Linked DNA regions of Homo sapiens: region 1 is linked to region 2. The links come from fine-mapping of genetic effects on gene expression. A gene starts in region 2. The other region holds a variant in brackets. All regions are shown on one strand. Distances are between the middles of the regions.

Region 1 (5,000 bases), 40 kb before region 2:
AGGTGGAGCTCTGGCTCCTGGGCCTGGTGCCCTGGTTTCCCCCTTTCCGCTGCACCTTCCACCCCTGTCGCTTACCTGCAAATAAGCAGATACCAGTTATAGAAGACAGGCAGGGCGATGGCGGTCAGCCAGCGGTAGTACAGGTTGCTGGACGGGTCCACCACGATCGCATCCTTCTTTTTCGTCTTCTTCCTGGAAACCCACACATACACAAACAGCGCACTGTGCTCCAAGACTGTAGCTTTGGAGGGTTTTAGAGAGCCTAGGGCAATTTCAGGCTGAAGCCCAAGATGTGGCTGTCCACAACAGGGTCCTCTTAGTCTCAAGGGAGTCACATGGGGAGTCCCTGTAGGGGAAGGCAGGCCAGGAGGTAGGGTAGACTCCAGAGGTCCTTCTCTCCCAGCTCAGTCCCAGGAGGTCACGGTCGACTATAAGGTAATGGTGATGACATTCCCATGTGCCCACGACAACATCCACACCCTTCAGGATGCTGAGAATGAAAACGCAGCATGGCAATGTCACAGAGGTCTGCTAAAGTCTGGGGAACTTCCAGAAAATTCTGATTCCCAGGGCCCACTCACCTCTTCCAGGGCTGGGCCTGGAAATATGCATTTAAGCATTGCCTGGATAGTTCTGAGGCAGCCCCTCTCTGGACAGAGTTGGGGAGCCCCACAGTATTCCCTCCAGAACCCTCTCCACCTCCCTCACTGTGTTTGTGCGGACGATGTAAAGGCTCATTTCCAAGGGCTTGCATCACACCTCTCCATCAAAAGCCTGGGAATAACCTGTCACGTGGGCCCGCACGGAATGAAATACATAGCTTAGAGTGCTTAACTTTTATTCTTAGAATTTCCCGCAGATTCAAGTTTACAGGCTGTACTGGAGACTGCCTTTTTGTTGGGTCCATGTGTCCCCTCTGCCATCCCATGCGACCCACGCTGGCCCAGGCCTGCAGAGTGCTCCTGTGCTCCATCGGAGACCCCAGTGACTTCCTGCCTTCACCTGGATGCTGCAAGTGCAAGGTCACTCACTGACCGGGCTTTGGGACGTTCCCTACAGCTCTCATCACCACTGAATTTGGGTGAAAGTTTGTGAACATTGTATCTTCCAGTGCCCCAGAGAAGCCCTCAGCCTACGTGTGGCCGGCCCACTTGTGAGGGCAAACGAAATGCTTCGGGTGGGGGGCACATGAGCAGGCTCACAGGGGCAGCCCCCGGCTGCCCACCGGAGGCTGCAGACAAGCAACTCTCTTTACTTATAAGCCCCCCTTGAGTTCCCGGAGCTTGGAGAGGATTCTTTCTGCAAGATGGGGGCTTCACATGGTCTCAGGAGGCATGGTCTGCAGCCTGCTGGGACCGACTTTTCCTCAGCTCCAAGCACCCTCTCCCCTCCAGGGCCGAAGCTAAGGCCCCCTGATAGCGTTGCTCCAAGATACCCAGCCCTGGAGCCCTGCAGGGAGGGGTCAGGCCTGCTGGGACCATGGCACCCCGTCTTTAGAGGCAGCTTCCTTCAGTACTTCCTCCTCGTGTTTTAGGTAGCTTTTCTCTCTTCTTTTTTCTCTTCGTTCTTTTCTGCCTTGCTGCTGGATGATGCCGGGGCACATTTAGCAGACTTCATATATCAAGGACATTACCAAATGGAAGGGGCAGGCTGCTGCGTCCCGGAGAGAGGGCGTGGCGTGTGGCGTCGTGGAGACGTCCTGAAGAGAGGGCGTGGCAAGGGGTGCTTCCAGCGCATTGGGATGAAATGGGGTTATTGATTTGTTATTATTATTCCTGAAGCGTGAGGTAAACCACCCCATTGAGTATACATTGAGAAATTAGTGGCTCAGTCTAATGTTCTACAATTTCTGATCTATTTTCATGAGCTCCTGGGAAGTCACAAACAGCCAGAGACTGGAGACGTTTTGAGGTAGTACGACATAGACCCAAATCCACACATTGAAGTTGGGAAAGTTACTCGGAGTTTTGGAAATCCCACGCCAGGCTCTCCGTTCTGAATGGAAGGGTGTGGCCTGTCCGCTGTTCTTGAAACCTCTCTCTGGATCAAGTGAAAACCTGGGCCTTAATGAGAAAGCCAGTGAGCAGAAGGGAAGCAACATTCGAAGAGGCGGGTCTGTGACGCATGTAGTGGCAAATA[C/A]GTGTGGTCGCAGGTTCGCAAATGTGGCCGAGTTCAGACACGCCTTCGGACTTTGCTGGGCTGCGAGACGGTTCAGGCAGCGTCCGCAGGATGGTCCTGTGACTGCAGGTTTTTCTTCAACATAAGACTTCACACTGCTGCCTCTTCTTTATTGGGTGTCTTTTAAGAGCTAGGAACTCTTATAAAGTTATCTAATGAATACATGTAAATTTCTTCAAGGCAGGCAGTAATGCCCCATTGAATAGTTGAAGAAACAAAGGTTGCGGAAGGGACAACCCCTCGAGTCCCCTTCAGGCCCCTCTGATTTCTCTCTTCCACACGCTGAAGGAAGGCATGGTTGAGAGATAAATTCTGCTAATTAAACACTCATTGAAAAAGATCCATTCACAATTACCTAACACTTCCTATGGAAATAATCAAGGCTGTGTGCGATACGTGTGGAAAAATAATCACTGCCATTATTCATGACAATCAAAAAGGGAGAGCCACCGAATCACACGACCATGCAGGCTCATCCTCAACGGTGAATTCTACATGGCCACTTAAAACGCTGTTTCAGAAGAGCTAGTGACGTGGGAAAACGGTTCCTAATATTTTGCTAAGTTAAGAAGCAGACTACAAAAGAGTTTACCGTAATAGCTGGATCAGTTTTCTATTTCTGCCGGAACAAATTACTGCAAACTTATACAACATAAATGTATTATCTTGCAGATCTGTAGGTCAGAAGTCTACTGTGGATCTCACCAGACTAAAATCAAGGTGTTGACAGGGCTGCCATCCCCCAGAGTCTCTAGGCGGGGCTCTGATTCCTGCTCGTTTGGATCTTACGCAGAATCCAGCTTCTTGCGATTGTGGGGCTGAGATCCCTGTTTCCCTGCTGGCTGCACCTTTCGAGGCTGTGGCTTCCTTAGCTCAGGTCCCCTTCCTACATCTTCAAAGCCAGCAGTGATGGGTCGAGTCCCCCTCACACTGTGACTCTCTTCTTCTTCCATTTACTTTCTCTGACCCACTCTTCTGCTTTTAAGGACTCATGTGATTACAGTGGGCCCACCCTGATAATCCAGGATAACCTACCTGTATTAGTCTGTTCTCATGCTGCTAATAAAGGCATACCCGAGGGTGGGTAATTTATAAAGGAAAGAGGTTTAATGGACTCAGTTCCACATGGCTTGGGAGGCCTCGCAATCATGGTGGAAGGCAGATGAGGAGCAAAGTCACATCTTACGTGGCGGCACGCAAAGAGTCTGTGCAGGGGAACTCCCCTTTACAAAACCATCAGATCTCGTGAGACTTATTCACAGCATGGGAAAGACCCACCCCCATGATTCAATTACCTCCCACCAGATCTGTCCCGACACATGGGAATTAGAGGAGCTACAATTCAAGATGAGATTTGGGTGGGGACACAGCCAAGTCAAATCATTACCTATCTCAAGGACCTTGAATGTAATCACATTTACGAAGTTCCCTTTGCCATATGAGGTAACCTGTTTACAGGTTCTAAGGATTAGGATGGTAGACATCTTTTGGGGGAGATTGTTCTGCCTACCACACAAGTCAATATTTATTGAGCACTTACTATGTACCAGGCACTGTTCTGAGCACTTTTCACAGAGTAACACATTCAGTCTTCACTCCCACCATGTAATAAGACCCTATTACAATCCTTATTTTATAAGCCAGGAAACAGATACACAGAGAAGTTAGGTAACCAGCTTATGTGGTTTGAATCTGTGTCCCTGTCATGGTGGTGGATTTCTCATGGTTTGGCACCAATTCCTTGGTGCTTTGCTTGAGACAGTGAGTGAGTTTTCTTGAGATCTGGTTGTTTACGGCACCTACCCCACCTTCCTCCTGCTCCTGCCGTTTGAGACTCCTTGCTCCCCCTTTGCCTTCCACCATGATTGAAAGCTTCCTGAGGCCTCCCCAGAAGCAGAAGCTGCTATGCTTCCTGTATAGCTTGCAGTACCTCAAGCCAATTAAACCACTTTTCTGATAAATTACCGAGTCTCAGGCATTTCTTTCTAGCAATGTGAGAATGGACTAATACACTTGTCCAAGGTCACAAAGCTCTGAGGCAACTGAGTTGGGAAACAGATGCTCTTAACAAGTATATGTATATATAAAATATATTGTATCAATCTAAGTATTCAATATATATGCCTAGGAAGAAGTTGGAAGTATATTTGTCAACATGTTAAGTGGGGCTATCTCTGATAGTGGAATTCCATGGTTAGCATGAAGTGCAGTTTTTGTGTGTGTATGCCCCTGTGTGCTTTTCTTGTTTTCCAAGTTTTCAGCAAGAGTATTTCAATAAAGTGAATTAGAATAAAAGGTTATTAAAATCATTAAATGAAAAGAGCAAGGAAAGTTACCCCTCCTCTGTCCTCCAGGGTGATGTGAACCCTGGTCTCTTTTCAGGCACTGGAGTCTTAACGTCAAGTCACCAGCAGACGGCGCTGCCCTCAAGCTTTTTGGGTGAGCTTTGCCCTGCAGTTTACGCCGGACTCAGCTTGCCTTGTGCAAGATTTGTGGCCCTGGATTACGGGCCTTGGCCTGTCTGGGTACCAAACTGCTGAGAGCCTAGGAAAGACCCAGCACCATCGGCTGCATCCCCAAATCCACCCAGCACTGCCCCAAAAGAACCCTACACAGAACTGCAAAATGCTGCTGGTTTTGGCTGGGAACAGTTTGATGGGGGAGGGAAAAATTATTCAGGACAAATGAGACCATATGAAAATGACAGAAATGGAGTGAAGAGTCGGGGAAGGTGTTCATAAATAATTATTTTGTGTGTGTCCTCATTTTGGGATAGTTCCCAGTTTTGTCCCTTGGTCCTTGGCTTCAAAGTGGACCAGTGA
Region 2 (5,520 bases):
GCTCTGTTCCTGCCTTGATCCAGGCCTTTCTCTCTCCCCAGGATGGCTGAAATAGTTATCTTTGCTCATCTCCCATCTTCAGGCTGTCACTCCTACAATCCATCCATTCTCTGGCACTAAGGAGGTGCTCAATGAGTATAGAATGAATAAATGTGTAAATGAATGAACCTTCCATAGTGACCCCAGAATCTTTATGAAAGGTAGTTCTAATTATGTCACTCTTCTCAGAAGCTTTTAGAGGTGCCTATTTTCTCCAGCACGCAGTCTCCATTTCTTAGCCTGATGGTCAAGACTTTTCATAATTTGGATCAAGTGAGCCTAAACTGGATGCTCATCTAAGCCAAATTACTCACCCTTCCCTTATGTGTATTGTACATTTGGTTTTTTTTTTGCCCCCACCTACTGGCAGAGACAGTGCTCACCAAAGCCCATCTTGTGCCTCCTGCATTTTCCAGCCTCCCTTTCAGGCCAGGTGAAGGCTGAGTGACGGGTTCTGGCAAGTGGACTCCCCCCATGATGCAGGACTCCCCAAAAAATCAGACATTGCATAAGCAAAGGGAGAAGCCACCAAGATATTCCAAGTCTATACGTCACCACAGCAGGGCCTTACTCTCTCCTGACTAATCCACACATCCTTGCTTCTGCCTAGAGAGATTTTCCTCTCTTGCTGGCCAGTTGATTTCAAGTTTCAGTTGCAACATAACCTTGCTGGGGAGGCCTACCCTGACCAGGAGTCAGTCACTCCCACCTCTCTCAACTCTCAGGGCTCTGTTATCACCTCCATTTACACCCGGAATGCAGGCCACCTGGTAGGTTGCACAAGGGTTTGTCTGCCACACTACACTGTGAGGTCCCAGAGGGCAGGGACTGTGTCTGTTTAAAATTTTGTTTCTCCCACCAGACTGAGCCTTGTCCTTTGTACTCAGAAATATTCAGGGTGTTACCAAAATGCATTAGGTCAGAGAGAAAACTGTTTACCCCCAGCCTCAGTAGAGAAAAAAGCATGGCCCATCTCAACCTTGAGGCCACAGTGGTTGGTGGGGGATTAGCAGGGGTTTCAGGTGAGCAGGACGCTGTGGGAATGAGGGAGGAAGGGGAGGGCGGGACGGAGAAGGGTTCTGGAACCTGGTCACTGCCGTCCCCGCCCCACTCCCTAGGGAAACTAGCGGCCAGAGCTGGAAAGAGCCTGAGTAGCTTCCAACTGTTTACCTTCTGGGTACCATGGCGACTGGAGACTGGTCGCCATGGCAACCTCAATATTAATCAGAGGCAGCCACCACTAGCAGATGGTGAATGAGGACAGAAAAGACATAGAAACAGGAGCATCAAAGGCAAGTGCACACGTAGTCACGGCCAAAGTCCCAGCTAAAGTGATTAAGATCCTGCCTCCACCAGCCAGTCACCCCAAGAACCACCGCTCCTCCCCTCCGGGCATCTACACAGGAGGAGGCCCCTCTCTGTGGCTGAACCGAGGCTGAAGAGGAAGTGCGGTGTTTGGGCATTGGTGCGAAGCAGGGGGAGTTCCTGTCCTTCCCCCTACCCCAAAGAACGCAAAGAAGCTCCCACCAGCTTAGTGAAATCCCATCTGGGTCCTCTGACCTGGCCGACTTTTCTACAACTGGGACTCTGGCGTAGAAGACCCAGTTGGTGGATACCACACACAAGTGACCATCTCTCCTCTCCCGGCCCAACCACCCGCGTCCCCCATGAATTCTCAGCGTGAACGCACGCTGTACATTGGACTCCGTGCCCAGACAGCACTATTCTTGCTGGTTTTCATGAATGAAAGTGTGTATGTGTTGGGGGGAGGGGGTGGCGGACAGTGCATAATGTTAGGGGCACCGAGCTGTCCACTCCGGGATGGAGTCTGAACCCGGGTGGGTGCCATTCCTGCTGATCCCAGCCTCGCCCCTTTGGAAGATGTGATGGGGAGCGTCTGCCGTCGGGGTGCCGGGCTTCGCTGCAAGGGACTGCTCCCGCCAGCTTCCGGCGAGGCCTGAGCCGGCGGACTGCGTGTCAGAGGCACCTGGTTCAGGCCAAAGAGGCCGGGGCGCCGGCTCCAGGTCCTCTAGGTTCCAGCGCCATTCATCCTCCCTCACGCGCCGCGCCAACCGGAGACCCCCGCTGCAGAGGGCCGAAGTTAAAGTCCCAGCTGCGCCGCTCAGTAGGGAGATTACACAGGGAGAAAAATGAATCACCCGGCCCGGGGTTGCGGGACTGCGAGGGCCTGCGCGCCAAGGCCCCCAGGGGCGTCGGGAGGGGCCGCGGGCTGAGCTAAAGAGAAAAGCCTGACGGCTGGGAGCCCGGCGCCTTTATCCGGTTAGGGGATTGCAGAGGATCAGAGAGCCCGCCGCCCCTTCTCCTCCATCACCGAGCACTAAGCCCCGGGCGTCCGAGATCCCGGGTGTGATTTTATCATTAAAAAAAGTAACCGCGCACTCCTAAAAGAATTTTAATTCTCGCCTCCTCCTCAGCCTACCTTTCTCTTTGAATCCCCAAGGGAAAATAGTCCCCTGGGTTGGGGGGCAGTCCTTCGCCGCTGCCTTCCCCCGGCCCTGCTCCCTCCAGGCCACTGACTCAACCTCCCCCGGCGCGGCGCGGACTCGAGAAGACGCGGCGCCCGCTCCCGACTTGGAGCCGGGGAAGTGGGTCCTTCCCGGACTGGCGGTCCGGGGACAGCGTGACAGGAGGAAATGTATGGGGTGGGGTCGCGGCTGCAAGCCCTACCCGTCCCCAGCGGGAGCCAGCCCTGCTCCTTCTGCCTCCCGCCCCGACGGCTCAGCGGGCTCGGCCCAGCGCGGCTGTGGGACGTGAGTAAAAGGGGGTGCGATCGGCTTGGGGAGCACGGGGAGGGCTTCCTGTCCTTTGAACTGGACTGGAGGGGTATGGGAGCCGGGGAGTGGGAGCCGAGGCCGTAGCCGATCCTTTTTCACTTTCTCTCCAGCCCGCGGCCCGTTTCAGCACCGGGGGCTGCGGACAGCGCCGCGCCCGCCCCTGGAAGCAGCAGCATCCCTCCCCTGCGTGTGGTTCTCTAACTTACCTCCTGTATGGGGTCTGCGGCCCCAGCACACCTCCCGGCGCCCCCCAAAAAATTCCAGCTCAAGAGCCCCTAAAAATCCTTACCCTGCCAAAGTTTGAGCTTCTCCGCGGCGCGCCAGGGTCTGCGGAGCGCCTCCTCCCTCGGCCTCCTAGGCGCAGTTCCGCTCGCTCCCTCCCCCGCGCTCCCGGCCCAGGACTCTGCTCGGCGACTGCTGAAGGAGCCTGTGGCCTCCCTCTCCGTGGGAAAGTAAGGTGAGGCTCTGGAGCCTCAAAGGCGGTCCGAAAGAGGCAGAAGTCATTAGTTCACATCCCCAACCCTCCCAGGGAGGACGGGGAGAGTCAGGGGCAAGAAAGCAAACAAGTCCGTCGTTCCGTTCTGGGTTCTCTCCTAACTGTGGGCGGCCACCCTGGACTCCTTCCTGGGATGTTTTGCTGGTAGTGTAATCCACACTGGATGAGTAAGCAACAGAGATCTGGGGTTTGAAGTTTAAAGGTGGGGACACACACACACACACACGCACAAAGTCTTGGACCCGTTTGCCATCTTAGGGAAGATGTTAGAAACAAGTTTCTCTTTGGGACAATGTGTATTCTCCTTGCAGAGTTTTTGTTTCCTTCCATCACATCAGATAACATCGGATTTCCTGAACTAAAAATTAAAACCACCAATCCAGCTAGTAATTATTTAACCCCTATTGAAGCCCAAGGAACTTAAACTCTTTTTGGAGAAAATAACTTTATTTACTAAAACTCATTTTCCTCCCAGAAGGTGTACTTCCAAGAACACACCTCTCCATGAAGGATGAAGACCGAATCCTGCCTTTCCCTCACCAGCAATTGCATGCTCTGGTTCTGGATCGCAGGAGCAGGTCCCGGGAGGAATCCAAGCCTCCTTGCCTGGGACAAGCCTCTTGGGTTCCAGGTTCTCTTGACTGATACCCTCATGGGAAGAAACTCCACAAAAGCAGATCCCACCGCAGCCAGCTAACCAGAGCTTCTCTGAGGACTTGGAGTACATGGCATTTCCTAGCATACTTATCAAATCGCCTGTTAATTGAACACATTATCTTTAGAAGGCTTAAGTTCATCGAGTTCATGCAATACTTGAAGGGAGAGATGAAGTGTATGTTTTTCACTGAAGAAATAAAGAATTAGAATGGCTCACACACACATGTGCATGTGTGCACACATGTCATGTCTTAAAGGGGGGAAGTAAAACCTAGACAAATTTTCCCCCAAAGAAAATCAGGCTTAGTCGTTCAGATTCAAGGGACTCTGGTAGTGGAAGAGCAAATAAATGGAAGTGGTGAATCAACAAAAGGAAGCCAAAGCCACAGAAGTTGGAAGAGAGGAGAATTCTTATTTTATTACTTGGGCTTCTGAAAGGAACCTGAAATTATAATAATTTCAAGAGAAAATATAATAGATGAGACTTTGCCTCATTGAGGACTTCAGTATTCTTATTCCAGGGAATCTCCACGTGCCTCAATTATGAATCTCCACGTGCCTCAGTTGTTATGTGCATTTTTTTTATAGTTCTCATTGTCAGGAAATGCTTTATTTCTTCTAATCTCATTAATTTATGCAACAAGTTAAAGCTGTTTCCTGCTGGCTTGTCCTCAGGGAAGACTGGAAGCAGATGATTATTTTCTGTTGTCCAGAAACATTTCAGAGTTTCAAAAGAATCTTAAATCCTGATTTTGGAGTAAATAGTAGTGATCATGAGATCATTTTAAGGCATCATCCTGAAAAATCCCCTTGGACTTTGTTTCTGAAATGCACATCATTCCTAAGATTTGAAGGGGAAAACAAGACCTCACAGAATTAATCAAGAAATGGAGAAGTGTCCTGAGTCTGATGAAATGAGATAGAGTGTTTAGCACAGAAATGGGCACATAGTTGGCCCCTAGGGAATGATGTATGTGGCAATAGTTATCATTGAAGAACTTTGGGTGTCTGAAAAGTGGAAACAGATGAAGAGACTGGAAATGAATGGAAAGAGACTGAAGGGGATGTATCTGTGAATTTGCCTGCAAAAGTCATCGAGCTGCAAGATCCTAGGCTGCCATGATGGAGGGTCCAGATTTGGCCCAATGCTCACTCAATGGAGTGGCCTCTGGGGACCTTTCCAATTATTGCTCAAGCTTCAACTGAGGCATGGTCGAGTGTGGAAGGGACAGCAAGATTTTGTGAAGATGCAGGATACAGCAACCTCTGAATAAATTAGTGGGATGCTCTAACAGGCCCATGGCACTAAGAGACCAAGGAGCGCGATTCTCAGAAACCCAAAGTCTTTTGGTGTTTGTTAGAATAGGGAGACCACAGGAAGAAGAGAGCTATGGAGAAAGCACCATCTCCTCTTTCTGACAGAGCAGGTGAGAGTGGGAGGAAGGGGGTGGGGGCCAGGTGAATGCTAAGTTGCTTCAGCCTCAGCCAGGACACTAAGGAAGTGGGGAGGGGTCTGTGGGGAAAAGAGTAGCA

Alleles and levels. Alleles are on the strand shown, and positions count from the first base shown. SD is a standard deviation of normalised expression in the study named.
For the expression in testis of the gene that starts at base 3,202 in region 2, allele A in region 1 goes with a lower level than allele C (moderate effect, 0.64 SD a copy in GTEx).

Evidence for each region. PIP is the estimated chance that this variant, and not a neighbour inherited with it, causes the effect.
Region 1: its variant is fine-mapped to the expression of CNGA3 in testis (GTEx, PIP 0.94).

What each region holds. Positions count from the first base shown.
Region 1 is chr2:98,384,850-98,389,849 of GRCh38, reverse strand. CNGA3 (cyclic nucleotide gated channel subunit alpha 3) reads right to left here. Exons shown (of 8, transcript NM_001298.3): 6 at 76-192. Among named protein-coding and RNA genes, the nearest start is that of CNGA3, 41 kb to the right of the region's middle. RefSeq lists a silencer at 1,565-1,752. The variant C/A (reference allele first, on the strand shown) is at 2,140.
Region 2 is chr2:98,344,138-98,349,657 of GRCh38, reverse strand. CNGA3 (cyclic nucleotide gated channel subunit alpha 3) reads right to left here and starts at 3,202. Exons shown (of 8, transcript NM_001298.3): 1 at 3,124-3,202. RefSeq lists an enhancer at 2,191-2,702.